Homo sapiens: one gene and its partner. The protein of the gene in region 2 purifies or fractionates together with the protein of the main gene of each other region. This does not show direct contact. Each region holds a gene or a part of one and is shown on either strand. Other genes may lie near its edges.

Region 1 (3,657 bases), on a different chromosome or scaffold from region 2:
AGTCACCTTCAAAGTCTTGCCTTCAGGCATCTGTCCCACTCTCTGCCCACTCCTTTCCATCTTTCACACTCACTGGAATGTGCCTCCTTCAGCAGGTCTCAGACCCCACTGCTTCCTCACTGCTCTGCAGCCGCCTTATGTGTGTTCCCCTCCCCCATTCTTAACCTGATTAGTTCCAGTGTCCCATCGTGGTTGTACTGTTTTCCCTTTCCTCTCTCTTCTAGAAGAACCTCTCACATTGGTTAACCTAACTCAGATAGCTGAAAGTGCCTGGAGAAGAGCTGCAAAACTGTGCAGACTGATTCCATTTTAGATTCAAGTGCAGAGATCTTAAATGGACTATAATACCAGCAACCCTGCCATGTTGCTGTAGTCGCTTTGGTTCCCACCCTCCCTTCCGTTCCCACTCTCCCTTCTCTTCGAACTGTCACCATGCTTCTTACTTGCAGCCGATGACCTTTTTTCTTTCTTTCTTTTTTTTTTTTTTTTGACAGAGTCTCACTCTGTTGCCCAGGATGGAGTGCAATGGCACGATCTCGGCTCATTGCAACCTCCACTTCCTGGGTTCAAGCGATTCTCCTGCCTCAGCTTCCAGAGTAGCTGGGATTACAGGTGCCTGCCACCACACCCGGCTAATTTTTGTATTTTTAGTAGAGATGGGGTTTTACCATGCTGGTCAGGCTGGTCTTGAACTCCCAGCATCAGGCGATCTGCCTGCCTTGGCCTCCCAAAGTGCTGGGATTACAGGCGTGAGCCACCGTGCCCAGCTGATCTTGTTTCTTGTTTCACTTTTTTTTTTTTTTTTTTTTTGAGACAGGGTCTTACTTTGTCACCTAGGCTGGAGTGCCATGGCGTGATCCCGGCTCACTACAGCCTTGACCTTCCTGGTTCAAGTGATCCTCCTGTCTCATCCTCCCCAGTAGCTGGGATTACAGGCACACACCACCACACCCAGCTAATTTTTGTATTTCTGTAGAGATGAGGTTTCACCACGTTGCCCAGGCTGGTCTCGAACTCATGAGCTCAAGTGATCTGCCTGCCTTGGTGTCCCAAAGTGCCAAGATTACAGGTGTGAGCCACTGCACCCAGCCTGTTTCACTTCTAATCACTAAATCTGTGTCTTTGCTCAGCACCCATATTCTCTGCTATCCCTCTGAATGCCGTTCCTGCTTCTCCCTTAAACTCCAGGCTCATATATCTGTAAGAATTAAAGAAAGAGGAGAGAAACACGAAGGGTGACTTGACAGTCAACAGGTTTGTTTCCTGGGTAACGGCCAAACTTCACCCTCTTACAATGGGCCTCAGTATAACAGTGGGCCTTAATAAGGACATTCTGTTCCCTTCAGGTGCACTAAGGGAAGCTAAAAGCAGACTTGGGGGGTATGCCTGCAGCTGCAGAAAGTTGTATAGGAACAGACACACAACTCTCCCTCCCAGATAAGCACAACAGAGAGACACAGAAACAGTTCAAGCCTTTGATAAACTCTCCCACCCTGAATCCTTAAAAACTCTTAGTCTGTAGGAGAGTGTGGCTCTGACCTAACTCGGTCGGAAGTCCCTCCCAGGTTTGAAATAAACCTGTTGACTGTCGAGCCACCCTTCGTGTTTCTCTCCTCTCTCCTCTTTCTTTGGTTCTTACAATACCCACTGACCATTTCGGAACCTCCACTGGAATGTCTAACAGGCAGCTCAGACTTATAGCCAAAACAGAGCTCTTGGTTTGACCTCAAAACAGTCCTTCCCCAGGTTTTCGTTGACTCAGCAAATCACATACTCTTCGGCCAGCTGCTCAGATCCCAGGGTTCTTCCTTCCCTTCTTCCCCTCATGTCCCACAACTAACTGGTCTGCAGATTGTGCCTCTTCTGCCTTTTCCATCTGGACTCACAGCGCTCATGGCCCCTCTTGCTTATCCAAATGATGCTCATGGCTGGCGTGGCCTGAGCAGTACTCATCTCCCTCTTCCCACTCCCCTCCAGTCTTCTCTGTAGAGCAGGCAACATGCATATTAAAAAATGGACATCAGCAGCCGGGCGTGGTGGCTCACCCCTGTAATCCCAGCACTTTGGGAGGCAGAGGAGGGAGGATTGAGCCCAGGAGTTCAAGACCAGCCTGAGCAATGGTGAAATCCTGTCTCTGAAAAAACCAAGGCTGGGCGTGGTGGCTCATGCCTGTAATCCCAGCACTTTGGGAGGCCGAGGCAGGTGGATCACCTGAGGTCAGGAGTTCGAGACCAGCCTGGCCAACGTGGTAAAACCCCGTCTCTACTAAAAATACAAAAATTAGCTAGGCATGGTGGCGGGTGCCTGTAATCCCAGCTACTCGGGAGGCTGAAGCAGGAGAATTGCTGGAACCCCGGAGGTGGAGGTTGCAGTGAGCCAAGATTGTGCCATTCTACTCCAGCCCAAGCAACAACAGCGAGACTCTGTCTCAAAAACAAACAAACAAAAAAAAACCTCACCAAAAACCAAACAAATGAAAAAACCAGAAAACAAAAGACTTGGGGCATAGTGGCACACTCTGTAGGCCCAGCTACTCAGGAGGCTGAGGTGGGAGGACTGCTTGAGTCCAGGAGTTTGAGGCTGCAGTGAGCTATGATCATGTCACTGCACTCTAGCCTGGGCAACAGAGGGAAACTCTGTCTCAGGAAAAAAAAAAAAAAAAAAAAAGGACATCAGTGGTGTCAGTCCCCTCCTCCATACTCTCTCTGAGCCTCCTGTTACTGTCAGCCTAATGTCCAAGCCACTTACCAGCTCTGTAAGGCCCACCTGACCTGGCCCCGGCCCCCCATTGCCTGCTGCTGTCTGCCTCACCCCTAGCTACATCCCAATACCCCAAGACTGCAGAGCTCTTCAGCCTGAGGCCTGTGCACTAACAAAGCCATCTTCCCCAGATCCAGGTGCTCAATCTTTGCTGAAATGTCACATTCCCAGTGAGGCCATCAACCACTCTATCTAAAATAACCCCATACCCGTCTCCTTCAGGTTCTGTCCCTTTCCTTGCGCTGTTTTCTTCATGTCTGGAATCAATTTCCACTCCGTCCATGTTTTTGAGCCTGTACTGTGTGCCAGGCACTGGTCTAGGCACAGGGGAACACCTGTCAGGTGCTGTTGAGAAAAATCAAGCAGTACAAAGGGCTGAGAAGTGATGGGCCGACCTCTTAGAAAGGGTGGTCAGGGCAAGACTCTCTGAGGAGGTGACAGTTAGGCAGAGACCTGAATGAGACGTATCTGAAGGAAGGGCAGTGAGCCAGAGTTCACGAGGGCAGGCGTGTGCTTTGGGTGTTCAGTGGGTGTCCACAGGAACCACACAGTGGCCAGTGTGGCTCAGGTTTACAGAACAAATGGGAGTGTGTCAGAGGCCAAGTTGTCTAGGGCTTTGGGAGTTGAGCCTAAGGAGCCTGGCCTTCATCTGGAGGGCGCTGGAACCACAGGAGGGTCCCAAGCAGGAGGGGAATGCTCACTTGTTAAAAGTGTAGAAATTGGATTGAAGTGGAGAGAAAGGAGGTGGGGAGGCAGTGGCAGAAAAATGTAAGGTTACAGACTCAGAAGAGATCTGACTGAGTGTGGTGGCTCACGCCTATAATCCCAGCATTTTGGGAGGCCAAGGCGGGAGGATTGCATTACCCAGGAGTTTGGCAGCTTAGTAAGACCCTGTCT
Region 2 (2,356 bases):
CCTCCGTAGCTCCCGCCACCGCCGCCGCAGCCGCTGCCATAACCGCCTCCACTCCTGCCTCGTGCCCCGCCTCCGCGGTAGCTTCTTCCGCCGCCATAGCCCCCACCGCTGCCGCCGCCGTAGCCTCCTGAGCCGTAGCTGCCGCCGCCTCCCGCGCCGCCGTTGACGCTCACCTGGCTGTTCTGCACGGCTGTGGGTAGGGGACAGTGCACACGGGGTCAGAGGGACCGGGCAAGGCCCCCACCTGCACCCGCCCCTGCACCTGCAGCCTCCTCCATCCTCGATCACCCGTGGCATCGACTTGCAAACCCCATACATTGAAAATTGAAAGTGTTCCTACTTGAAAAGTATTCTTCATACTACAAAGGGATGCCAGGGTTCCTCTCAGCAACACACTTACATTGTTTATTGAATATGTACCCTAAAGAGTTCTAGCCGCTGCTGATTCCTCCTAGGCATCATTTAATAAAAAGGCATCATAACAATTAAGATAAGCAGACCTGAAATCATAACCATTTATTTCAAATGAATTCTTCCAGGCTTTGCCATTACACTTGCTTACTTTGGTGTCTATTGCACAGGACTGGAAGCTAAAATGCCAGACTTTCCGTTCTCTGCTGGCCACCTCCTGGCCCTCCCTCCACCCAGCACCACCAGCCTCTCTCTGCCCCTGGGCTCTGCTACTTACAGATGCTCACATGGCTCTGCAGCTCTCCTGACATCCTGTAAAACCAAAGCACACGGTCAGCCAGACCCACAGGGCCTGAGGAGAGAAGGCTGTGGCCCACAGACATCTGGATCAGAGGTGTCCCCAAGCCTTAGGGAAATGTGTGTGCATGAGCAGAGGTCAGGAAGCCAGTGGGGCAGAGAGAAATTTCAGGGTTTTCATGAAGCCTTTTAGCATTGGGGGTGAATACCCAGCTGCAGAGGCTTGGATTGGGGTATAAGGACATTCTACTTGGAGGTGGAGGAATGATAACAATGACTTCTCCCTATGTGAAGAGGCTTGTCCATTCACACAGCCTCTGCCTCTAATTGGAATGTTTCTGCTCACCCTGGGCTACCAATCTTCCCAAAAAGGTGGGGCTTATCTTTTCTCCAAATAGCCAGTCCCACAGCTTCATGGGTGCATCTCAAGCCTTAGCCCCAGAAACACAGCTGCCAGACCCACCTGCTCTCCTCGCCCTCCAGCAGCTGGCGGTAGGTGGCGATCTCCACATCCAGGGACAGCTTGACCCCCAGCATGGCCTGGTAGTCACGCAGCAGCCGGGCCAGCTCCTCCTTGGACTGCTGCAGGGCCTCCTCCAGGTCCTGCAGCTTCTGCCACGCATCCTGGAGGGCCTGCTCGCCTCTCTCCTCAGCATCCGAAATGAGTGACTGCATCTGTTCAATCTGCTCCAGAGACAGTTGGAGACCATTTAATGGTTAAGTTTCCAGAGCTCGATCTGGCAGGGCATTGTAGGAGGTGCAGGGCTTGGTCAGCCCTCCCTAAGCACCCGTCCCACCTGCTTCTTCACGTTGCTGATCTCTGCCTGCAGCCTCTGGACGGTGCGGTTGAGCTCTGCAATCTCCATCTTGCTGTTCTTCAGGTCGTCTCCATGTCTCCCTGCCGTGATCTGGAGCTCCTGGTACTGGGGCCAAAGGCAGCATCATAGTCAGCATGTGCTGCCCACCACAAGCCCCTCCAGGAGGGAGTAGGTCTGGGCTGCTCTCCCCTGGGAGATTCCCACCCACCTTGCACTGTGGTCACCCCTACATGCATACTCACAGCTATACCAAACCTCCCTCACCCAGGCTGCAAACACATGTATACATGCACACACTCACACTATCCCAAGCCTCCCGCATTCCCACCAGTCTCTGGGCAGACTCTCATCCCAGCCAGACAAACCTGCTTTGTGATGCCCTTTCTACCACCTTTTCACACATCTAAGCCTTCACGTTGGTCCTTACCCACACTGAGACCCCCTCACTCTTTCCACCCACCATATAGCTTCCCACCCTTTTCCAGGATGATCTCCCTAGCAGTCAAGCAGGACCTCATGTCCTCAGAGGCCCTCCATTGGCTCCACGTTCAGTCTCATTTCCCCTCCATCTCTGTTTCTGTCTCTGTATTGCCCCATTAGTCAGAACTCCACCCCCAGGACAGGGCTCTGAAGTGGGTAGGAGAAGCATCGACTCAAGGGAATCTGCACTCTGCTATTTTTCACTGTTGGCCATCTGCTTCCTAGTCTAATGTCGAAATCCATTCCACCCCAGAACACTGTGCAGGACCGTGGGACAGAGGTCAGCCAGGATTGGAGTTGGCCACAGATCATCCTCAAAGCCAGTCATCAATGCTAGTTGTTCAGAATTT

The links. Proteins that work in one complex are often made in the same cells at the same time.
Region 1: the proteins of KRT77 (region 2) and ARMC9 purify together in Homo sapiens (co-immunoprecipitation; one large-scale study listed by IntAct). This does not show direct contact.

The regions. Positions count from the first base shown.
Region 1 is NC_000002.12:231,201,531-231,205,187, forward strand, and holds part of ARMC9 (lisH domain-containing protein ARMC9), read left to right. Parts: intron 1-3,657. UniProt on the Homo sapiens protein: Involved in ciliogenesis. It is required for appropriate acetylation and polyglutamylation of ciliary microtubules, and regulation of cilium length. Acts as a positive regulator of hedgehog (Hh)signaling.
Region 2 is NC_000012.12:52,691,250-52,693,605, forward strand, and holds part of KRT77 (keratin, type II cytoskeletal 1b), read right to left. Parts: intron 1,632-2,356; coding exon 1,506-1,631; intron 1,393-1,505; coding exon 1,172-1,392; intron 724-1,171; coding exon 689-723; intron 191-688; coding exon 1-190.